4 linked regions of the Homo sapiens genome follow. The protein of the gene in region 3 purifies or fractionates together with the protein of the main gene of each other region. This does not show direct contact. Each region holds a gene or a part of one and is shown on either strand. Other genes may lie near its edges. The genes, in order: MTX1, SPG7, LPAR4 and TTK.

Region 1 (2,678 bases), on a different chromosome or scaffold from region 3:
CCTGGGCATTAAAGGGACAGAGTCAGCTCACACGCTGTCTGTGACTAAAGAGGGCACAGCAGGGCCAGTGTGAGCTTACAGCGACGTAAGCCCAGGGGCAATGGTTTGGGTGACTCACTTTCCCCTCTAGGTGGTGCCAGGGGCTGGAGGCCCCTAGAAAAAGATCAGTAAGCCCCAGTGTCCCCCCAGCCCCCATGCTTATGTGAACATGCGCTGTGTGCTGCTTGCTTTGGAAACTGGGCCTGGGTCCAGGCCTAGGGTGAGCTCACTGTCCGTACAAACACAAGATCAGGGCTGAGGGTAAGGAAAAGAAGAGACTAGGAAAGCTGGGCCCAAAACTGGAGACTGTTTGTCTTTCCTGGAGATGCAGAACTGGGCCCGTGGAGCAGCAGTGTCAGCATCAGGGCGGAAGCCTTAAAGCAGCAGCGGGTGTGCCCAGGCACCCAGATGATTCCTATGGCACCAGCCAGGAAAAATGGCAGCTCTTAAAGGAGAAAATGTTTGAGCCCAGTCAGTGTGAGTGGCTTTATTCTGGGTGGCAGCACCCCGTGTCCGGCTGTACCAACAACGAGGAGGCACGGGGGCCTCTGGAATGCATGAGAGTAGAAAAACCAGTCTTGGGAGCGTGAGGACAAATCATTCCTCTTCATCCTCCTCAGCCATGCCCAGGGTCCGGGTGCCTGGGGCCCGAGCAGGCGTTGCCCGCTGGATGGAGACAATGCCGCTGAGCAAGGCGTAGCCCACCATGGCTGCCAGTCCTGCCAGCACAGATAGGATCTGGTTCCGGCGCCGGTATGGCTCCTCCTCAGTCTCTGGGCCTGCTGGTGTCTGGCGTTGCGGTGGTACCTCAGCTGAGGGTCAAGGAAGGAAGGTGTGTTAGGAGAACTAGTTCTTGGATCCCTGCCCACTCTCCCCAGGGCTGCCCCTCCCATCTGCCCCTTACCTCCATCCCAGGGGAAGTAGAGACTGAGAATGTGGGTACAATAGGCACAGAGGTTGTGCAGCCCACGCAGGTGGACCTGCAGCTTCCCACTGGGCAGCTTTGCCTGCAGCAGCAGGGCCAAGTAGCTGAAGACGAAGGCGTCCAAGGAGGCAGGGCTGGAGCAGAGAGAGAAGGGTGGGATGGAGGAGAACCACTGGGGTAGAAGGGGTAAAGATGGAGCTGGAGGAAGAGTCAGCCTTGGGAGGTGGGCTCTGGGCAGCAGGCGGCCACCAGGGAAGGACAGGACACACAGTTCTAGACCTGGTATGGGGAGAGATCCCCAGGTGGCGCCAGCCTGGCCCTGAATAGGGCTCTATCCCAGGGCTGCATAAAGGGCACATTCAGTGCCCCACAGCTCTTCAGGCCCCTCCTGTGCCTGGCTGCCCTCCCACCCTACCCTTTTGTACCTCTGAGAAGGCTCTGGCCCCCACACAGTCACACTGTCACTAGGGCCAGTTTCTATCCCAGGGACCTCCTATCCAGAGCCTGAGCCAGCCCCAGCCCCAGCCCCAGCTCCAGCTGCTCCATCTGAACCTGTATCTTCTTCCAAGCCACCCATTACCCTCTTGGAGTCAGACTCACGCATCTCCAAAGAAGAACTTTTGAGAGCCCAGGCGCTGAGAGAGCAGGGTCAGACACTCCCGAGCCTCTCGGTACAGCTGTAGGGGCGACACAGGTAGGCTTGCAGCTGTGGGAACAGTGCCACCTCCCCACCTAAGCACTCCCATTCCTGGCCAGCATCCTTGGGGCTCATCTCATACAATAGCCCCCGGTCTCAGAGCTACCTCCTTCTCCAGCTCTTCCTCGTCCTCAGGCCTGTGCTCCCCAGTCAGCAGCTGTAGCCGTTCCATGTACTGCCGCTGCATGCGGCCAGGCAGGAAGAAGTTGAGGGGAAAGGGCATAGCCTCTGCATACCACTTCCGGGTCACTTCCACGTAGTTCTTGGTGTCTATCCAAAAAGTATGTACCTGGATTGGGTGGGCAGGAAGAAACAGGTAGGTCTGAGCCAGTGCACCTGTCTGATTCAAGGTGGGCTTCTGACCCCCATGCTTTCCTGAGCCTGTGTGTGGGTCTGTGTGTTCCCGAACCCTCCCCGGCTGGCCATGGATGCTGGGAGGTCTGGGCACACTCACCAGCACCGGGAGCAACTTCTCCTCCAGGAGAGACATGAAGGCCAGGGTGTCTGCCCCTTGCCGAGCTGACAGATCATAATCAGCATTGTACTTCTGTGGAGGAAATATCCATGGCGTGGACACTAGGGAGCTGCAAGGGCACTTCACCAGGGAGGAAGGAGTCCTGTCTGGTACCCCCCTCACTGGCCTCTGAGTGCAGTGGAGGTACAGCAAGGAACTTTTCCTGCCAAGGCCCCCTTGCCTGGGCCCAGCCAGTAGCCTGTTGCTGTTGGCGAAAAGCCTGGGCCTTGGAGCCTCCTGGCCGTGAAGGTCCAGCGCCCAATGCAGGGAAGGAAGGAAGGCTCCGCCGCAAACTAGGAGCAGCTCCCAGAATTTCCATGGAAAGCTGGAACAACGCCCGCTGACGGCAACTTTCTAACAGTAACTTCCCCGACCCAGACACCACAAAGCTAGCACAACGGAGCTCAGATGCAGGCTAGGACTCGGTCCATGCCTCAGGAACCAGAGAAAGCCATCCTCACACTCCCTGGATCCAGGGAACCCACGCCCAGGGCCCCCCAGCT
Region 2 (7,049 bases), on a different chromosome or scaffold from region 3:
AGTGAGCGGAGCCTTTTTTCACTCCGTATAATTCCTTCCAGGTTCATTCGTGTTATCAGTGAGTGGTGCCTTTTTTCACTCCGTATAATTCCTTCCAGGTTCACCAGTGTTATCAGTGAGTGGTATTCCAAGCAAATACTTTTCGGGCAACCACTACTTACAATCATTCTGCACGGCTGGCAAAGCTGTTTCTAAGCCACATTCAGTATCGTTCTTTCATTTAAGGAGGTGGCAAAAGAATCTTCATCTGAACAGACGCCATGCAGTTCAGCATCAGACCAGGGAGAAGGCCTGCCTGAGGGCCGGGACTGTGTTGTGCCTGTCTGATCAAGTCAGCAGTCCTGAAAATCCACACAAACCAACTCCCGCCGAAACCACAGCAGAGGGCCCAGGGGAAACCCAGAATAGGTTCTCACAAGAAAGATTATTTGGCTCAGTAAACAATTATCCTCTAACGCAAATTTAACAGACATTATTTTCTCCAAGCAAACTATAGTTCAACCCAAAACAGAATAAACATAAAACAATCACTTGGCCGGGCGTGGTGGCTCACGCCTATAATCCCAGCACTTTGGGAGGCCGAGGTGGGCAGACCACAACGTCAGGAGATCGAGATCATCCTAGCTCACATGGTGAAACTCCGTCTCTACTAAAAACACAAAAAATTAGCCGGGCATGGTTGCGGGCACCTTTAGTCCCAGTTACTCGGGAGGCTGAGGCAGGAGAACTGCTTGAACCCACGAGGTGGAGTTTGCAATGAGCCGAGATCGTGGCATTGCACTCCAACTTCGGCAACAAGAGCGAAGCTCCATCTCAAAAAAAAAAAAAAAAAAAAGACGACGACAATTACTCAGATGCAGGAGAGACACGCATGTCAGCTACACGCAGCCTCATCCATAAGCAGATGCAGGGCCCAGGAGAGCAAAGGGCATGGTGACTGCCTGCCCTTCCTCACGCCAGGGCACCTGCCAATGCAGCAACGACTAGGATTTCACTGGACAAGCACCTACCACATGCCAGGAGTGATAACCAGGAAGCTGCCATGGCTTTGCCTTGCCATGGCAACGGAGGCTGCCATGCCATTCCTTCCAGGAACCATGACAACGGAGGCTGCCATGCCATTCCTTCCAGGAACCATGACAACGGAGGCTGCCATGCCATTCCCTCCAGGAACCATGACAACGGAGGCTGCCATGCCATTCCTTCCAGGAATCAGAGTTATTAGTGGGGCACACGTCCCTGGTTAACCGTAACACAACACACAAGGCTGAATGCAGAATCCGCACAGGCCACACAATTCTTCCCTCTTCTATGACAGGTGACCCTTCAGCAACACAGGAGTGAGCTATGTATGATCACGGACACGTGGATTTTCTTCCACCCCTGCTACCCAAGACAACAAGACCAGCCCCTCGTCCTCCTCCTCAGCCCACTCAAGGTGAAGGCCATGAGGATGAAGCTCTTTATGGTGATCCGCTTCCACTGCATAAATAGGAAATATATTTTCTCTTACGACTTTTTTCTTTTTTCTTTTTTTTTGAGACAAGAGTCTCGCCGTCGCTTTTTTCTTTCTTAATTTTTTTTTTTGAGACAGAGTCTTGCTGTGTCGCCCAGGCTGGAGTGCAGTGGCGCGATCTCGGCTCACTGCAAGCTTCGCCTCTTGGGTTCACGCCATTCTCCTGCCTCAGCCTCCCGACTAGCTGGGGTTACAGGTGCCCACCACCACGCCTAATTTTTTTTTTTTTTTGTATTTTTAGTAGAGACAGGGTTTCACCGTGTTAGCTAAAATGGTCTCGATCTCCTGACCTTGTGATCTGCTCGCCTTGGCCTCCCAAAGTGCTGGGATGACAGGCATGAGCCACCACGCCCGGCCTTTTCTTTCTTAATTTTTTATGTTTGAGACAGAAAGGTCTCACTCTATTATCCAGGCTGAAGTGCAATGGCACAATCTCAGCTCCCTGCAACCTCTGCCTACCAGGTTCAAACGATGCTCACGCCTCAGACTCCGGAGTAGCTGGGATTACAAGCACGTACACCACACCTGGCTAATTTTTTTTTTTTTTGGTATTTTTAGTAGACAAGGGGTTTCACCATGTTAGCCAGGCTGGTCTCGAACTCCTGGCCCCAAGTGATCTAACTTTCTTCTTTTATTAAAAAAACGAACGGCCGGGCGTGGTGGCTCACACCTGTAATCCCAGCACTTTCGGAGACCAAGGCGAGTGGATCACCTGAGGTGAGAAGTTTGAGACTAGCCTGACCAACGTGGCCAAACCAGGTCTCTACCAAAACTACAAAAATTAGCTGGGCTTGGTGTTGCATGCCTGTGATCCCAGCTATTCGTGAGGTTGAGGCAGGAGAATCACTGGAACCCAGGAGGCAGAGGTTCCAGTGATCTGAAATTACGCCATTGCACTCTAGCCTGGGAAACAAGAGTGAAACTCCAGGCTGGGCACGGTGGCTCACACCTGTAATCCCAGCACTTTGGAAGGCCAAGATGGGCAGATCGCCTGACATCGGGAGTTTGAGACCATCCTTGCCAACATGGTGAAACCCTGTCTCTGCTAAAAATACAAAAAATTAGCTGGGCGTGGTGGCGCACGCCTGTAGTCCCAGCTACTCGAGAGGCTGAGGCAGGAGAATCGCCTGAACCCAGGAAGCAGAGGTTGCAGTGAGCCGAGATCGTGCCATTGCACTCTAGCCTGGCGACAGAGCGAGACCCCATCTCAAAAAAAAAAATAATAATAATAATAGTAATAATAATAATAGAAATGAGGGTCTTAAACTCCTGGGCTCAAGTGATCATCCCACCTTGGCCTCCCAAAGTGCTCAGATTACAGGTGTGAGCCACCGCACCTACCCAGCAAATTTTTTTTTATAAAAAGGTCAGCCGGGCGTGGTGGCTCACACCTGTAATCCCAGCACTTTGGGAGGCCGAAGTGGGGAGATCACGAGGTCAGGAGTTCAAGACCAGTCTGGCCAACATGGCAAAACCCTGTATCTACTGAAAATACAAAAATTAGCTGGGCATGGTGGTGCATGCCTGTAATCCCAGCTACTCAGGAGGCTGAGGCAGGAGAATCGCTTGAACTCAGGAGGCAGGGGTTGCACTGAGCCGACATCGCACCACTGGACTCCAGTCTGGGCAACAGAGCGAGACTCCGTTTCAAAAATAAATAAATAAATACAAAATAAAAGTTAAAAAAAAAAAAGGTCCAGGGCTGGGTGCGGTGGCCCACTCCTGTAATCCCAGCACTTTGGGAGGCTGAGGCACGCAGATCACGAGGTCAGGAGATTGAGACCATCCTGGCTAACACGGTGAAACCGAGTCTCTACTAAAAATACAAAAAATGAGCCGGGTATGGTGGCGGGCACCTGTAGTCCCAGCTACTCGGGAGGCTAAGGCAGGAGAATGGCGTGAACCTGGGAGACGGAGCTTGCAGTGAGCTGAGATCACACCACTGCACTCCAGCCCAGGCGACAGAGCGAGACTCCGTCTCAAAAAAAAAAAAAAAAAAAGGTCAAGGCCAGGCACGGTGGTTCACACCTGTAATCTCAGCACTTTGGGAGGCCAAGGTGGGTGAATCACCTGAGGTCAGGAGTTTGAGACCAGCCTGGCCAACAAGACAAAACCTCATCTCTACTATACAAAAAGAGGGCCTGACGCGGTGGCTCACGCCTGTAATCCTAGAACTTTGGGAGGCCAAGGTGAGCAGATCACAAGGTCAGGAGATCGAGACCATCCTGGCTAACATGGTGAAACCCAGTCTCTAATAAAACAAAAAAATTAGCCGGGTGCGGTGGCGGGTGCCTGTAGTCCCAGCTACTAGGGAGGCTGAGGCAGGAGAATGGCATGAACCCAGGAAGTGGAGCTTGCAGTGAGCCGAGATTGTGCCACTGCACTCCAGCCTGGGCGACAGAGCGAGACTCCGTCTCAAAAACAAACAAACGAACAAAAAACAAAAAATTAGCAGGGTGTGGTGGTGAGCACCTGTAATCCCAGCTACTTCGGAGGCTGAGGCAGGAGAATTGCTTGAACCCGGGAGGGGGAGGTTGCATTGAGCTGAGATCGCACCACTGCACTCCAGCCGGGGCAACAGAGTGAGATTCTGGCAAAAAAAAAAAAAAAAAAAAAAAAAAAAAAAAGTCAAAGGACACACTTTATTGAAATGTTGAAGTATACAGGGAAAGAGCCCTGAAATCAATTCAGAACAATTTTGTATGAAGATTCAGAAGTCTTTTAGAAGATAGTTCTGAGTGGCTGTAAGCATTGACACTTACCGTAAAACCAACAGTAAGCTGAAGATGAGCCTAAAGCCAGAAACGCCTAAACTGAATCCACCTGCGAAACACTGGTGTCCCTTCCCGCAGTTATGACCTCCCCTCGAGAGCTCAGTAGGGAGAGTCAGAGCTCCTCTCTCACAGAGTAAAGCTGTCCCTGGCCTTGGCAAATGCAGCGTCTCACACAAAATCAATCAAGAAGGACGTCACTCCTGAAACAAACTCCTGCTAAACTCGAATTCACAATAATAATCCCCTCATCCAATAGCTGAACCATCATTTCCACATCCTGAAAGCTTTCCTGAAAAGCAACATGGGAAGAAAAAGTCCTTATGACAGTTCCTCACTCGCCTTCCAAGGCCAGGTGCCTTTCTAGAAAGATGAGCTCTGCTGAGCAGGGCGTCCATCTTAACAACGCTGATTTCCAGCGAGAGGCCTCAAGGATCCAAAAGCAAAGCATTCCTGAAGCTGAGTTCAACCCTTCTGCCCCCTGGGGCTGTGAGTCTGAAGCTGAGCCTCCAACTCCTGGGCTCAAGCTCCTCCAACTCCTGAGCTATGACTACAGGTGCACACCACCACGCCTGGCCAATTATTTTCTTCTTTTCTTTCTGTATAGATAGGGTCTTTTTAAATTTAAATTTAAATTTTTTTTTTTTTGAGATGGAGTTTTGCTCTTGTTGCTCAGGCTGGAGTGCAATGGCATGATCTCCACTCACAGCAACCTCCACCTCCCAGGTTCAAGCAATTCTCCTGCCTCAGCCTCCCGAGTAGCTGGGATTACAGGCGTGTGCCATCACGCCCGGCTAATTTTCTATTTTTAGTAAAGACGGGGTTTCACCATGTTGGCCAGGGTGCAGGTGATCCGCCTGCCTCAGCCTCCCAAAGTGCTGGGATTACAGGTGTGAGCCACCACGCCCAGCCTTTTAATTTGCAGTGAGACAGGGTCTCGCTATGTGGTATAGGCCTCAAGTGATCCTTCCACCTGGGCCTCCCAAAGCGTTTCGATTACAAGTGTGAGCCACTGCACCCGGCCCATCTCCCCATTTTCCAGACTGGTTTCACCTTGCTAAAAGGAAAACAGAAATGTAAAGACATCCAGAGGCAGCTACTGACTGAAGAACATCAGATGAATATACCTTCGTCCTCTTCAGGCGCCTTCCCCTTCGACTTATCCTTCTCCTTATTCTTCTGCTTCAACCTTGAGGTGTTAAAATAGAAAGTACCACCTATGAGAAATAGAGAAAGGATTTAACAATTAAGTTTTGCAACCACAGGGGAGGCATACAGGACAACAGTGTACTCCTAAATAACCAAAGCAAAACAAAAACCATCTGAAAAACCTACTTATATCCATAAGATTTATAAATATGAAATAAAGCATATCCTATATCACTTAGTCCAGTATTTCCTAATTACAAAATAATAAACTATTTTAACTTACGTTAAATATCTTTGCTACTTAAATTGCTAATGTGAGGGAATAAAAAATAGTTATGAACACAAATTTGGGAAAATATCACGAATCCCTTTAATATATGAAGTTGCTTTAAAAGAACTTAAACACGCCAGGCGTGGTGGCTCATGCCTGTAATCCCAGCACTTTGGGAGACCGAGGCAGGTGGTTCACGAGGTCAGGAGTTCAAGACCAGACTGGCTGAGATGGTGAAACACTGTCTCCACTAAAAATACAAAAATTAGCCGGACGTGTTGGCAGGCGCTTGTAATCCCAGCTACTTGGGAGGCTGAGGCAGAATTGCTTGAACCCGGGAGGCGGAGGTTGCAGTGAGCTGAGATCACACCACTGCACTCCAGCCTGGTTTACAGAGCAAGACTCCGACTCACAAATGGTTTCCAGACAAGTGGCAACAGCAGCAGCCCAGCCACCACCAAGAGGGGCCGGCACGACACTCCTCACACAGAGCTGTCTCAAAATCTGAACAAATCAGCGTTTACAAATGGGGGAGGCCAGGTGCAGTGGCGCACGCCTGTAATCCCAGCACTTTGGGAGGCCGAGTCGGGTGGATCACGAGGTCAGGAGATCGAGACCATCCTGGCTAACATGGTGAAACCCCGTCTCTACTAAAAATACAAAAAATTAGCCGGGCATAGTGGCGGGCACCTGTAATCCCAGCTACTTGGGAGGCTGAGGCAGGAGAATGGCGGGAATCCTGGAGGCAGAGCTTGCAGTGAGCGGAGATCGCGCCACTGCACTCCAGCCTGGGAGACAGAGCAAGACTCCGTCTCAAAAAAATAATAATAAACAACAACAACAACAACAACACAAAAATGTAGCTGTACGTGGTGACACATGCCTGACTTCCCAGCTACTCAGGACGCTGAGTGGGAGGAGAACCTGGGCCCAGGAGGTTGAAGCTGCAGTGAGTAGAGATTGCACCTGGGCAACAGGGCAAGACCCTATCTCAAATAATAATAAAAAATAATAAAAATAGGGAAAGAGTTTCACAACCATGACCTGAAATGTAACTTTCTTCACAAAGACATGAACGGGTTCACCAGTGAAACGGCCCCGGTTGCCACTTGCATGTCACCTCAGGCTTAAGGAGGCTGAAGCATGTGCTTCCTGTTTCACAGCCACAGGCACCCGTGAGCTGACGTTAAACACTGACAGCAGATGAGCCAGTTGCTGATGCACGGCCAGTGGGCACGGCACTCTCCCTACCCATGTGTTGGCACAAAGCTGTTTAATGTTAGTTAGGAGTAGAAATATTTTACTTTTTCCCTGTTCCAACTCCATAAAGGGGAGCGTGAAA
Region 3 (7,200 bases):
GAAGAGGGAAGAGGAAAGATGACTGGAACAACAGGTGGAGACTCCACTGTCTTGTTTTTTACCTACACCCCACACAATTTCTCTCTCCACTGAACTACAGTGATATGATCAAGGCTTCAATTCAAACACTGACTGACAATCACTGCACCTTTACCAGGATGTCCTAGGCCTACCCAATATAGCATGTCTGTAACATCTCCAATTCAAACTCTGCACAAAATATTTGTATAAAACCAGAAATACTCTGCGATGGAATTCTTAGGAGTAGCAACCGCATTTAGAATTTACCCATTACAGTGCTTCCATCTGTAAAGTAGAATCATCCCCTAGCTCCAAACGTACACTATTGTTACATCTCATCCTTTTCTAAACAGAGGTAGCCTAAAACAAAGCAAACTTCTAAATAGTATTACAACTCTCCTGAAATGATTTTTCTATAATCTAAAAAAACAAAATAAGTACAATGATTAGATAATTTAAGATACATTGAGATCACCTTAATATTAAGGAGAGTTGATTTTCACACTCCTCCAGAAATCTGTCTTCCTGGAATGAAATGAATATTTTATTCCATTTTATTGGTTTATCGTAAAGGAAAACAGAAGCATTAACATTATTTTATGCCTTTCACAGTTGATAACGATTATACAAAAAACCTTTTATTCAAAATCCAAGCAAATTAGGAAGTTCAAATACCCAGAAGTTTTTATAACTGATATTAATTAAATATAGACACATCCAGCCCCATCACGAGCTCTGTGAGAGCAAGTCACAGTCCATTTCTGAGTCTCAGTTTCTCTTCTCCTTTAATCTTCAGTCTTGACTGACAGAAAAGCAACCTTCAATGAGTGCCATGCTGGTGGCCTTACTGGCTGTTCTTTTCCATCATTTATTTTCACCTGCTTACATTGGCCACTGTAAAACATTTTTTATTTCCTCAAAGTCTGCAAGCAAGGAGGGTCATTAATTTTTATTAGACTTAATGAAATGATTGCTAGATTTATTTGAATATTAGAAATAAATAGTATTAATTAATACCGGAAGCTAAGAATCACAGAGAAAGATGCCACTAATATCCTAAAGTCTTCCAAATTCCCTTATTTTCCTCATCCTCTGTCCTTGTGCTCATTTCAGCAGGCATATCACCTCTAATTGTTTAGGTCTCAACCCTCAACCCTTCCCACCTGTTTCCTGGTCACTTCACCCCTCAGAATATGAGGTTATCGGCATATTTCAGGACATAACCATGTAGAATCATTAGATCATTTACCCGTTACATTGTTCTGATAACTGATTATTTATCCGCTTAAAGTAAAGGTGGATTCCCAGTGGTAGGTAACCTTTTATTGGGCTCCCAATTTTCAGTACTAATATTCGCAAACACATTACAGGTTTTGTTCTTCCCCCAACAAGAAGGCCAAGGGCAGACTATATGTGATGACCATATACACAGACAAAAGGTAGCTACACAATTAGGCGCTGAACAAACCACAGCAAGGGCAACAATTCTCACTGCATTTTCCCAAAAGGCAATTGAATAGATCAAGCTTTAGCTAAGCTTGGCCTGAATGTTTCTGTGAGGCATCTTCCTGGTTCTCCCTTTAACTTGCAGAGAGCACACATTCTGAAAGACTGGCCTGATTGTTCCAATAAGGCTTTCATTCCCATCTCTGATTGGCAGGAGAGACTTTAGAATGTAGATGCCATCAAGTTTATCAGGTGAACTCATCCTTCTTGGCAAGAGTGCAACTTTTCATCTGTGACAAGGCAAAAGGTTTTATAATCTATGTTGATGGGATATGATGTTGGGAATTTTGTTCTGAAAAATAAACGTGTTGCAAAGCCATTGGGTAATCTGGATCTCAGGTTATTATTATTGTCTTTATGTTAGTCAAGATAAAGAAAGATGGTATAATTTTGTAAGGTAGCAAAGTGAATAACCCCACCAAGCTCTGAAATATTCTAACCTTTGAATTTGTCTGGTCTTTTCCACACTGAAATAATGATAAATTACATTGCTGAATTTCCTTTTAAAAGGTAACTGAAATACTGTATTTAGCAACTCAATAAGACCTTTTTACTGAAAATATTTAAAATTTACAAGAAGAGAGTTTAAAGATGACACATTGATGCATTTGTATGGCAAACAGCAATTAATTTCACATATAATTGCAAATTCAGTTTATGACAGAGTTTTTCATTCAAACATGATTCTTCCTTTATGGGCAAGTTCATGAATTATTCAATATAGCAAATGTCACATTCTCCATAAATCAATTAAGCATCAAAGACATGTCATGTATAGTTTTACTAGAAGAAACCTCATCATAATACAAGCCACGTTAGCGCACAATAAACTGTAAACCAAAGAAATACAAAGCTAGTCGACATACTTTCTAAATTGTTCTACACTGTGATTTTAAATTAGCTCTTTAGAACAACTGTGTTTACATGAAACAGCAGCCTGAAAATCCTGTATGTCTTCCACGGAAACAATATTATTGCCAAAACAATGGAAATTCTCGTTTTTTACCATTCATCACGAAGATCCTTGTTCAGTACTTCAGAGTTGAAGTCTAACTTCTTTCCTTACACTCTCAAAGCATCAGTGTTTCCACTGTAGTTTGTTATGCTATCCCCCACCCCCAAACGCCAAAATCAAATCTTTTTAAAAGAGAAACTTACCCCAAGAAAGAGTGTGCTAGATGAGAGAATGTGCTGATGCCTGTAGATAATTAGCTAATAAACATGTAAATGGGCAACTCGCCCTTTGGAAGTGCATATTTTTATCCATTTTTTTTTTTTTTTTTTTTTTTTTTTTTTTACAGGGAAAGGTTAGCCCAGCCTAAAGTAGCAGACTCTGGGCTGCCGCAGCTTTTTACTGCAAACCGCTCATTCTGTAAATGTGAGCTTATTTACATTTATCTCTTTCCCTTTGTTAACGACTCCCTCTCTTGAATGCTGTAGCCCGCATGCCTTTAGCAAACAGGACACAAAAAGGCCTGAAGTCCGAGCTGGAGCCGACGGCCAGGGGAACTCTTGGGGGTCTCAATAGGAAATGCTTTTCATTGGCTAAGGAGGCATTATTAGGAGTCTAGATCCCGCCCAATTCCCTGTGCTCCATCGTTCCCTTAGTCACCAGTCACTGGACTGAATAAGTTTTTCCTTAAAGAGCATTGCCCAGGAAAAGCAGTTTCACAGTCAAGAATTAATGGCTTAAGTGCCACTTGACAATATAAAAAGTGTCTTTCCTGACCAATTAATCCACAGAGAAAGCCTGTGTGCCTGTCTTTGCCGCAGGACTGCAGAGGAGGAGACAACATTTCAAACAAGGAGGAGTGTTTCAATTATGCATACCATGTTCGCTCCTACTTGTTTAAAATAATTACAACAATATTGATAATAATAAGTAGGGGGCAAGGAAAAGGCAAAAATGAAAGGTACCATAAAAATATTCCTATCACACTGTGCAAAATTCAATCTCCCACCATCACAAAAATATAAAGTAAATTTTAATACTACACTCACTTAAGCCAGATAAGTGCCCTCAGATAGAGATGTACTAGGGTCCCAGAGCTCTGACACCCACCTTCCAAGGACTAGGGAGTGTTCTGTAGCAAAAGGAGGGTCTACACTTCTCAAGTAACTGCCTCGCAGTAAGTCTAATTACCATGAAAATTTCAGAGATTTGCTAAAATACAAAATAAATAGCACAGATGCAATCTATTTACAATAGAGAGTTATCTGCAACTGTATACCTCCGCCCACCTCCCCCATGGCAAGATTTTCTTTTCTAATTATCTACAGGTTTACTGCCTTGGTCACTCACAATTCTTTTTTTTTTTCCTCCCTATATTTTCCTCTTCACCTCCCTCTCCTTGATCTGATTTTGTGGCAGAAACCCACTCATCCATCTGTAACTTCATTGTTGGCCCTTCCCCTCTGCCAGCCCACCCCTGCAAGCCTTCTCTACTCTATCTCCACCCACTGCAAAAGCCACCAACAGCAGCCCCTCCCCCTCCTCTGGAATGAAATTCTCTGCCCAGGGATAAGGTGCTTTCTTTCTCTTGGCAGAGCAGAGCCCCTGGAGTCTTGGAGGATCCTCTATTTGCTTCAGAACTTCAGTTTGTGTAATTAAGCTGCCTCCCAAGTAGGGCATGTTTCAAGCTTGTTTATTCTCCCTATTTGTTCAGCTCTATTGTGGCTCTTCTCACTATCAGTGGAGGCCAGTAAACAAGTTAGTGTGAAGCTGACACTAGCCTTATTACTTGTAACTGGCTCTAAAAAAACACTTTCTCTGTTGCTTCCTCTTCTCCATCCCACCGCCCATCTCTGTTCTTTTTATTCCCCTCTCTGCTTATCTCAAATATGTCTATTTCTGTCAGTTGCTGACATTGTCTGTGTCTTTATAAATGGTCTTTTACCAACTCTCATCCTAGACCAGTACTCGGTGCATTTGTCAGTCCACAGGCGAAAGATACAGTCTCTACCCTGCAGTATGCCAGAGTCTAGGTAGGGACACAAAGACACATGAAAAAAGTGGGATACCAAAGGTAAATTTTGAAAAAAAAAATACCAAGGCAGTTATATGGAGATTGAGTTCTGTAATAGATCAGAGGATGGAGATGAAGTCCCATGGATAGGGCCAGGAGGGTTTCTTAGAAGAAGTGGGATTTGTGCCACATTTTGGTGGATGATTCAGTATTAAATAAACCAAGAATGGAAGGGGATATATTTCTAGGTGGGCAGAGCAAAGTGATCAAATGCAGAAGATGTAAAGTGAGAGTAGGTGAGAAGGAGACCAGTTTGTAAAGGGAAAATAAGGGTAAGGAGAAAAGCTTTTGAGAGGAGTACTTTACTGTAGCAACTCAATGCACTATAGTGATTGAAGGGTTAACCTATAGTCATGATCACTGTCTGTCTATATGATCAGCTCACTACCTTTCTCCTCTTCAAATTAATAGCCATAAGTTTTCCAATTCTTCTGTCTTCATTTCTCCCTCAAGGACACAAGTACTTTGCTGATTAATCTCACCAATGTAGCAGATCTTTTACAATGTCACTGGGTCACGTGCTCTTTTAGCATCAGTCTTCCTCCCTTCTGAGTTTCAGCCTCATTGATCCTCTTCCAGCCCCTAGAATGAGATAGGATCACTCATGCCATGGATATTTCTAAGTGCTATTTCCTCTGCCTGGAACACTCTCCTCCCTCTCTAATCTTCCTTTCACCAGTTTAATCCTTATTCTCCCTTCAAATCCTATCCCAATAATCACGCCTTCAGGGAATCCTTCCTTAACCCCTCATTTAGGTCATATCCACATACTATATGTCCTATAGCATCATGGACCTTTCATGTATTGCATTTTTTACTGGTATAATTTTACATACCGTTGTGTAATTTGTTTGTGTGACAATTTTATTAACATTGATTTCTCCCAACTGTAAACTCCAAGAGGATAGGATTAATATCTGCTTAATCCAAAAAGGATAGTGGTGTTTGCAAAAAATTATTCTCCCTGACCTTCTGTTTTACCCAACCAAAGCAACAACTAGACTTTTTTTACTTATCAGCTGAAAACATGCATCATTTTGCCCATTTTTGCACAAATTTACACCAAGATATTATTTTAGGCCAAAGAATACACACAAATAAAGAAAAAAAAATCCCATTAACAAGAAAGTACTAAGGCTTATCCACTACCATCCCCTTTTTCCTTTAACTCACTTATTGCTGCAAACCTTATAGTTTTGCTTGCTCTAACATTTGTAAGGTGGAAGGGGGAAAACAAAAGTCTTCCCAGGGTTTTCTCCAATCAGCCAGTTTATATCTGTAAAACTTAACTCAAAATGTTCTTTAAAAAAAAGACACTCGTTGAGTTTTTGATGTCTATGCTACTGGGGGAGGAAATGAATATGTCGCTTAAAAAGTGCATTCAGAACTGTCTGGGGGAATATGCATTTCATTTTTTTATCTGTTTGAAAAGAAAGTAACTGAAATATGACTAACTTCCAACTGGAAATTTACACATTTGATTAAGAACAACCAGATGCTTGGGACCTTCACACTTCAAACCCAAATTAATTTTTCTTTCTGCCAACAATATCAAAGGACTGGGTGAAATCACCCATAGTGCAAGTAGTTCAGCACTATGCCAGGTTCCCTAGAAACAGTATAAATGTAACCAAAGGATTTTAACCATGCCTGTATCATTCCAGCTAACAGTTTTGGTAACTCTGATAGTCTTTAAGTGAACACAGTACCTGGACCATGTTCTAGGGAAAGGGAGCCAGTTAATTACTAACTTTGCATTAATTAGTGGATGTCTTTTTTTTTCTGAGACAGGGTCTCATTCTGTTGCCCAGGCTGGAGTGCAGTGGTGCAATATCTGCTCACTGCAACCTCTAATTAGCGGATATATTGAAGTCTTCCAGGAAACAAAGAAAGGCAAAATCCTGGATCCTGCAGCCATTTCTTTTTTATACAATCTTCTTTTTTGCTTCAGTGGAAAAAAGGATCACAAGGCCAGGTTCCCCATCAGCTCATTTAGGACACTAAGTCTCTGAAAGGGGGTAAAATTTATTTTCAAGCAAATTCCCTACAAGATTTTTAGCTCATCCTTAACACTGGATTACCTTTACTTCCTAGTGTTTTCTCAAACAACTGAGCTTTCCTGCTCACTCACTGAACCAGCTTAGGAAACAAGTTTCCATTGCTAGAAGTGGAGTTGGTAGTTACAGAAAATGAACACTTTAACCTAAGAACTTTGGGAAAAGCCCAGGAACTTTGCATGTTTGATATAGGTTAGAAAAATTTCAAGGTAACAATAAAAATAATGACTGTAGAAAACATTTTGTCAGCATTATTACATGTCAGGTAATATTCTAAGTCCTTTACATATATTTATTTACGTAATTTGCACAACTCCATGATGTAGTCACTGTTATTCCTATTTTATACTTGAGAAAAATCAGCCACAGAAAGTTTAAGTAAATTGCTCAAACTCACACAGCTAATAATTCCTCCATTAATTCTGATAATTTCTAGGCTAATAGTTATAATCATACCTTCATTTGGTAGTACACTCAGAACTCTGTCCAAATCATCTTGTTCATGAGCAAATATAAGGATTCTATCTTTTGTGATGCAAACTCCTCACTAGAAGTCGACCAACCTTGCTAACAAAATGTGTAGCTTTTGA
Region 4 (7,858 bases), on a different chromosome or scaffold from region 3:
CTAGAGATCTTTGCTTCCAAACAGTTCGGTAATTGATCCCAGAAGGGGTCTAAAATTCTAAAATCTACATTGAGATTATAGAGATTAATAGCTTCCAAATTCTACCTTTTCCAAAAAGGTAACACTTGTCCATCCATTTCTGGCTTTCTATCATTGCTTCTACTTATTATGACTTTTCAGAGATTGCCAGCAATGTTTCTGGGATTATATTTGCACGTTTTTTTTCAATATCCTGCTTATTTTCTTCAGGATATTGTGGTATATTAACCAACTACGTGAGGCTCTCTCTATATAGCAGAGACTGAAAATGTATGGAGATATATATATATATATATATATATATTTTTTTTTTTTTTTTTTTTGAGACAGAGTTTCGCCCTTATTGCCCAGGCTGGAGTGCAATGGCGAGATCTTGGCTCACCACAACCTCTGCCTCCCAGTTTCAAGTGATTCTCCTGCCTCAGCCTTCCGTGTAGCTGGGATTACAGGCATGCACCAGCACGCCTGGCTAATTTTGTATTTTTAGTAGAGACGGGGTTTCTCCATGTTGGTCAGGCTGGTCTCGAACTCCTGACCTCAGGTGATCTGCCCCGCCTCAGCCTCCCAAAGTGCTAGGATTACAGGCATGAGCCACTGCACCCAACCTGGATACATTTAAAAAAAAATTATGGCCAGGTGTGATGGTAATCACAGACCATCACAATGCTTCCCTGCACTTTGGGAGGCCGAGGCAGGTGCATTGCTTGAGCTCAGGAGTTTGAGACCAGCCTGGGCAACATGGCAAAACCCTGTCTCTACAAAAAATACAACAATTAGTCGGGTGTTGTGGCATGAACCTGTAGTACTAGTTACTTGGGAGTCTCAGGTGGAAGGATGGCTTGAGCTCAGGAGGTAGAAGTTGCAGTGAACCAAGATCACACCACTGCACTCCAGCCTGGGTGACAAAGCCAGAGCCTATCTCTCTCTCTCACACACACACACACACACACATACATACACACACACTTCATTTGTGTCAGAGAGTTTGGATGGAATTTAAATGTCTTTCTTATATAGCCTGTCCTGTATTTATTTTTAAGATTGTCAGTCTGACTGCTATTCTTCATATTGGAGAAAAAAGAAAAATAGGAACTGAGAATCCTACTTTTCTTCTGCTGTTTGTTAGCATAGTTTATTGCCTGCATGATTAAATAATACCTGATGTCCAAGTAGTGGTCCTAACTCGTCACTGCTGTTTTCCTTTGTAGAACATAATCTAAGCTGTCATTGCTGTTTTTCTTTGTGATCTATGAGGTACGTTGGTACCTCTCCTTGGCATTATTTTCTTTTCTTTTGGGTATGGCTTGGTCCATTCTGTGATAGTTAGCTTTCCTGACAGTATTCATACAGGTCTCAACATTCTTATGGGCTCACGTCACTCCTAAATGCACTAAAATCAGCATACACTAGTAATGTTTTATCCAGAATAAACCACCATAAAGCAGCACACAACTGATTGCATGCTGTAAGAACTGGATTTATTATTGATCAGAAATTTAACTTTTGTATATGCACAAAATAAATTCATGTATAATAATTAGTTTCTAAAATCAAAGTTTGGGCCTTACTGAGCTTGTGTAACAATGACCTCAATAATTGAAAAAAAAATTCCTTGGAGGGGATTTAAATAAATAAGTAAATAAATAATGGAATAAAAAAGGCAGCTGTGCTGACAGAGAAGTCAAAGATCAGCAAAAAAGTTTCATGATGATAATGACAAAGTTAAACATTCGAAACTTTTGTTTATGTGACAAAAATGTGAAACTTACCATCTTACAATAAGTCATAATCTTATGGCTAATTTTATTGCTTTGTGAAAGGCTTGACTCTGAAAATGAACAAGTTTATTCACTGTCAGATGCAGCTGATTTAAAGCCAAATGAGAAACTGTGATGCAAGAAGTATACAAATGTGTTAAATAAAATAGGATTCTTAAATACTCTAATGGTTGTAAATATTAGTATTTAGCTAACATTTATTAAGTGCCTACAAATGTACCAGGCACTGTTCTAAGCACTAAGGATGCTGTAATGAACAAAGTAGACAAAAATTCCTGTATTATGGAGTTTACATTCTAGTGGGGGTAAAGTTTGGAGAGTCAGAAAATAAACAAGATAAATAAATAGGTCAAATAGGTAAAACTGTAGGATTTTACAGATCACCGCTGTCCAGTGGAAACACAATGTAAGCTATATATGTAATTTTCAATTTCCTACTAGCCATATTAAAGTATAAAAAGAAACAGGTGAAATTAAATTTTCATAAACTTTTTATTTTTGAATAATTTTTAATTTACAAAAAAATTCCAAGTGTATTAAATAGTACAGTGAATTGCTGTATACTGTTCATTGTTTTTCTGTTAAGATCTCGCATTACTGTGATGCATTTTTCAAAACCAAGAAACCAACATTAGTGCATTTTCATTAACTAAACCTCAGACTTTATTTGAATTTTACTAATTTTTCAATTAATGTCATCCTCCTGTTTCAGGATCCAGTTTATGATATCACAGTGCATTTAGTTGTCATGTCTTCTTAGTCTCCTCTGTGATGGGGTGGTATTAATTTTAATAATATATTTTATTTAACTCAATATAGCAAAAATATCATTTTAACCTGTAATTGATATTTTTAAAATTATCAATGTTTATTACTTTTTCTTATTCAGTCTTCAAAATCCAGAGTGTATTTTATACTTAACAGTACATCACATTTCATACTCAGACACTTTCACTGGAAATACTTCATCTGCATTTGGTTCTCACAAAATTTACAGTTGAAAAAGTAGGTTCATATACTTACATTGTTCCAAGTATACTTAAAAGTCTTCCAATAAATTCATGACTAATGCAAGTTTAGAAAAAAGAAAGCAAAAAAAATTACTTTAAATAGTTTAAAAATAATCCCATTAGATATCAGTTTTCAAATTTAAATATAAATTTAATTAATCAATTAAGGTTAATTGATTTAAAAATTCAGTTCCCAGTTGCACTAGACATACTCAAGTGCTCAATAGTCACAGACCATCACAAGGACTTTTGATTTTATTCCGAGCTAGAAAGGGAGCACTGAAGGGTTTTGAGCAAAGTAGTGACATAATCTGATTTAAGATGACTTTGCTATGTCAGAGAATAAATTGAGGTGAGGCAAGGGCAGAAGCAGGGAGACCAGCCAGGAGGCTACTGCAGGTAACATCAGTTAAGTGATGCAGATGCCTTGGACTGAAGTGGTGGCAGTGGAGGTGGGGAGAACTGGTAGGAGTCCAGGAATCTCTTGTGCCAGCCCTGACTCAATCTGCTTATGAGTTAGATAAGGGATCAGGGATGACACAAAGGTTTTGGGGCTAAAAAATTTAAGACAATGAATTTGTCTTTTATAGATTTTGTAAAAAAAACAGGTTTGGGTAGGAAGATCAGGGGCTTGGTTTTGGACATTTTGAGTTCAAGATGCGTATGAGACATGTAAGTGAAGATGTTAATAAGTAGGCAGTGGATATCTGAGTATGGAGTTGAGGAGAGCTCAGCTAATGATACACATTTGGGAGCCATCAACATATAGATGGTATTTAAAAATAGAAGACTGAAGGAGACCACCAAACGAGAGTACAGAAAGAAGTGTTAGGGTGAGGTCATCCAGCAACAGTATTTTAAGGAAAATGCAAGCTTTGTGATCAGGCCGCAAACAGATCAACGAGAATTGGAGGAATAATAAACTCTTTCCAGGCAGAAGCATTAGATGCAATGGTGCAAAGGTAAGTGATTAGCCAACCATGGTATAGCAAGTCATTTTGCTCTGCTGAAGCAGAAATACTAGCTAGCTGACACAGAAAGATGCATTAAGTGATTGAGAAGGGCTCTCACGCTAGCTGGGTGGCTATCCAGAGCTGGGAATGTGAGGGTTCTAAGGATAGCTTTGGAGTTAACAAGTGACAGCTGCAGTTAGTTTCCTATACATACACAAAACCAACCCGTCCTACCACAGAATATATGTCATAATGCTGGCACAACAGACACATCCCTTTTAGTTTTGCAGACGAGGAGTAACCGTTGCCCTGGACCACAAAGCCACTTAGCGGCAGAGCCTCGCACCCGCGAAGATTATTACTAGGGAGATGTTTTTACCCCTGAGGACACCTGAGCCCTTAAGTGGGGCAGGCTTCGAGGGAGGGGGGCCGATAAGGCGACTTCAGACAGGGCAATCACGATGGGCGCTTGAGTTCTGCGCAGAATTTTGACAAGGGGGAGGGTCTTGGCTTGAAGACAGAGCGTGGAGTCATTTAAGGATAATGGAAGGGCATAAGCAGAAGCTCAAGGATAAAAAGCACTGAAATTCTTGAGCTGGCGGCAGGGCTGAACGTAGCTCAGTGAAAGATCCTTTCTTGCCACATCCTCTCTAAGCCAGGCTGTGAGAACCGCGGGAAACGAAGGAGAAGGGTGGCGGTGGGGTCAGTAAAGGGCCGGCCCAAGGTGCATCTTTTAGGTCCTGATGCTAGGAGCAGCCGTCCCTGCCCCTATATTCCTCTCACTGGGTAGGTTTGCTCGGGAGTGGCTACCTCCCAGGCAAAAATTCGGCCTGGTTAAACTGGAAAGACCAGGAAAGCCCGCCCACGGGCGTCCGGGGAACGCCTGCAAAGTGCCAGCACCCTACCAACCCAGGCGCCGCACGGGTGGGGTCGCGGCCGCAGGCTCTTCCGGGGCGGGCCTAGCCTGACGCAGGAGGAGGGGCGGCCCCCGTCGCACAAGAACCAATCACGACTGTCGCTTCTACGTGGCTAGCATTGACCAATAGGAGACCGTAGTGATAGCGACGGGGAAATTCAAACGTGTTTGCGGAAAGGAGTTTGGGTTCCATCTTTTCATTTCCCCAGCGCAGCTTTCTGTAGGTAAGTTCTGTCTTACCGGTGCACCGGCGCACTGAGGAACAGCCGCAGCCGGTGTAGGGGCTCATTGTTAGCGCTGGTCGGTGAGGGGTGGGGCGAGGTGGGGGCAGCTCGGAGCCAGGTATGCGACGCGGCTAAACGAGCTGGAGGGGGAGGGGATGTCTCACTGCCTCAGCGGGTCTGGCCGGTGGGGTGATGCAGGAGGTTTTGTTGAGGAAGTAAGAAGTGGGTGTGGCCCACGCTGGAAAGAAGGGGTGGTGGGGTACCTGCGCACAAGATCGTTTTCCAAAGGACAGTCTCTCTTGTTTTGGGGGTTAGAACTGGGAAAGAAGCGGGTGGCCGTGATCTGACAGTTATCTTTCAAACCTGACTTAAGAGGTGGAGTGATACCTTGCTGCAACTTTATGACTTTTTTTCATTGTTAAACCTGAAGACGGGGCAGCATTGTTATCAGTGACACTGAGTTGGTGTTTGAGAGTCACAAAGATACGATTAACAATAAGACTGCAGACACTTTATTGAACAAACACCACCACCATGCAGATAAGCAAGTGCTCAGTACCAGTACAATAGTTTCTTAGTGTTAGATTAAGGTAGCAAATCGTGATTCTGCTAGATATGCACAAGAATAAATCTGCGGATTTCCTAATTATCAGTAAAGCCCCATCATGTTTATATTCTGCTTTGAAAGCACTTGCACTGGAAGATTTACTCAAGTAAAGCAGGCGAATAAAGGAATTGTTATTCCCATTGCCAAACGAATTCTTTATGTCTATGTCACTACCAGAATCCAAGCAATCTTTATGTGTATGTCGCTACCAAAATCCAAGCAAACACTCTATCATATTTTTTTTAAGTGACACTAAATTTGCAGATTTCTACAGTGTGACGTCATTGATGTTATATTGGGGGAAAAAGTATACTTGGCCTATGAAACCTTGGTGAATAAATTACAAAGATGTGTACCTTGTTGTTGTGCACTTACCTCCATTAATACTAGCCTAATAATAGCTGCATTTAGATGTGTTCACAAAACGAATGCTTTAGTCGTCTGGGTTCTAAAAAGCTAGTGCATTTTTTTCTTTGATGCTAGTTAAAGTAGGAGTTATGACTGTTCAGTTTTTTTCTTAGAAATGGAATCCGAGGATTTAAGTGGCAGAGAATTGACAATTGATTCCATAATGAACAAAGTGAGAGACATTAAAAATAAGTTTAAAAATGAAGACCTTACTGATGAACTAAGCTTGAATAAAATTTCTGCTGATACTACAGGTGAGTTTTTCTTTTCTTTTAAGTTAGTAACTGTTTGTTGGGTATCCTCTAAGGTAAAGATATAGTACTAATCACTTTATTTATAATTTACTCATGTGTTTATTGTCTTTCTCCTCCATTAGAATGCAGGCTACATGATGGCAGGGTTTTTGTCTGTTATATCCACAGAACTTTGAATGGTGTCTGGCACATGGTAGGTAGGCACTTAAACATTTATTGAACAATGATTAATGGGTGAAAATGCCCAGAGTTTAATACTCTAGCTCTTCTAAAAGTATTAGCTCAGAAGCCTGATTCTTTACTGTATTTCAAATGGTTGGTCATTTGAATGGTGACCTTTGGATAATTTTCTTACATCTATACTAACCTTTAAATAGATGAGGAATTGAAAATAAATGGAAGAACCTGTGATCTAATCATGGTGGCTGACTGTTCACTTTGAAAAAACCTAGAAAATGATAGTTTTAGTGTTAAGCAAAATCTTAATGGAGTATAATTGTGCTTAATTATGTCACTAACAAAGGTTGTACATCAAGGCAATTGAGTATTTTAAGTACTGAGGAAGATTCAAAGATGCTTAAAACCATAGTTTCTTTCTAGATGAGAATTTATATATTCACTATGCTACATTGTAATGCATGCTGGGCATCATAGGAATACTAGCATGATAAAACACAAATGTTTTATTTGTTGATTAGAGGAAGAATAGGGTACTCAGGCATGAGGAATGCATCTGCAAAGCCACAGATGGCAATGTGTGTTTTTTAGACATTTCACAGACTAATTTCTTAGGAAAGCAATAGGAGGTAAAAATAGAAAATTAAGGTCAGACCAAATTAAATTTAAAACGACAAAGCAAAGTTATGCATGCACTATATTTTAGTAGAAAGTAGAAACAAATTTTATTTATAAAAGTAAAGATGTAGGCTTTGTTGAAAGTGACTGAAGTTAATAGAAGGAATAATAGCTTCTCTGGAAATCTGAATTTAATATTGCTTAGTAATAACCAAAATATCCTGAACAGAAGACTGACATTCAAGTTATCTTTTTAAAAAACTAACACTGAAGAAAGTAAAAAGTACATTTCAGTGTGAACATTTTGTCTGAAGGTTATTCTTGCTGTTTCTGTTGGTTGGGGTTCCACAGAGAGAAACCTGACAGTCACAAGAGGTCCTATAAATTCCAAAGGTCTAGACCACGGTAACTATGAGTTTGTTGGACCAAGAAATTATCAGGGCCTCTAGCAGAAATTTAGGTTACTTGGAGAGAAGAAAATGATTGTCTCATTTGTTTATTTTTTGTAAAGCTGGTTTGGTTTTACAAGTAAGTATGAGGTATACAGAGATAATGTTGAATGGTTAAGGTTGTAAAGAAGGTTATGTTAGGACTGGAGCAGTAGGTTTAATGAATAAATCATTGATGGGAGAATTTTCTAAGTTAATTAGTACAAGTGGCAGTGGGAGAGATTTAGTTTTCTATGGATAGGTAGGATGCTAAAATTATAGTTATCCTGCAACAGCATAAAATTTTCTTAAACTACATACAATTTTTAAAGGCTACTTACAAAAAAACTCACTTATTTCCAAATGTTTTCTTTCCTTCAAAATATATAGCTTTTGGATAAAGTATACCTTCATAAAAGATAAATACACGATAAATAAGTTACTTG

What was found.
Region 1: the proteins of LPAR4 (region 3) and MTX1 purify together in Homo sapiens (affinity purification with mass spectrometry; 2 studies listed by BioGRID and IntAct, with this or other methods). This does not show direct contact.
Region 2: the proteins of LPAR4 (region 3) and SPG7 purify together in Homo sapiens (affinity purification with mass spectrometry; 2 studies listed by BioGRID and IntAct, with this or other methods). This does not show direct contact.
Region 4: the proteins of LPAR4 (region 3) and TTK purify together in Homo sapiens (affinity purification with mass spectrometry; 2 studies listed by BioGRID and IntAct, with this or other methods). This does not show direct contact.

Annotation. Positions count from the first base shown.
Region 1 is NC_000001.11:155,211,657-155,214,334, reverse strand, and holds the end of MTX1 (metaxin-1), read right to left. Parts: intron 2,209-2,678; coding exon 2,116-2,208; intron 1,951-2,115; coding exon 1,768-1,950; intron 1,642-1,767; coding exon 1,565-1,641; intron 1,099-1,564; coding exon 944-1,098; intron 852-943; coding exon 637-851; 3' UTR 512-636; downstream 1-511. UniProt on the Homo sapiens protein: Involved in transport of proteins into the mitochondrion. Essential for embryonic development.
Region 2 is NC_000016.10:89,511,403-89,518,451, reverse strand, and holds part of SPG7 (mitochondrial inner membrane m-AAA protease component paraplegin isoform 1 precursor), read right to left. Parts: intron 5,505-7,049; coding exon 5,415-5,504; intron 1-5,414. UniProt on the Homo sapiens protein: Catalytic component of the m-AAA protease, a protease that plays a key role in proteostasis of inner mitochondrial membrane proteins, and which is essential for axonal and neuron development.
Region 3 is NC_000023.11:78,743,520-78,750,719, reverse strand, and holds the start of LPAR4 (lysophosphatidic acid receptor 4), read right to left. Parts: upstream 3,001-7,200; 5' UTR 2,686-3,000; exon of another isoform or gene 2,534-2,685; intron 1,820-2,533; exon of another isoform or gene 547-1,819; 5' UTR 497-546; exon of another isoform or gene 1-496. UniProt on the Homo sapiens protein: Receptor for lysophosphatidic acid (LPA), a mediator of diverse cellular activities. Transduces a signal by increasing the intracellular calcium ions and by stimulating adenylyl cyclase activity.
Region 4 is NC_000006.12:79,999,794-80,007,651, forward strand, and holds the start of TTK (dual specificity protein kinase TTK), read left to right. Parts: upstream 1-4,855; 5' UTR 4,856-4,920; intron 4,921-6,036; exon of another isoform or gene 6,037-6,048; 5' UTR 6,049-6,050; coding exon 6,051-6,189; intron 6,190-6,311; exon of another isoform or gene 6,312-6,382; intron 6,383-7,858.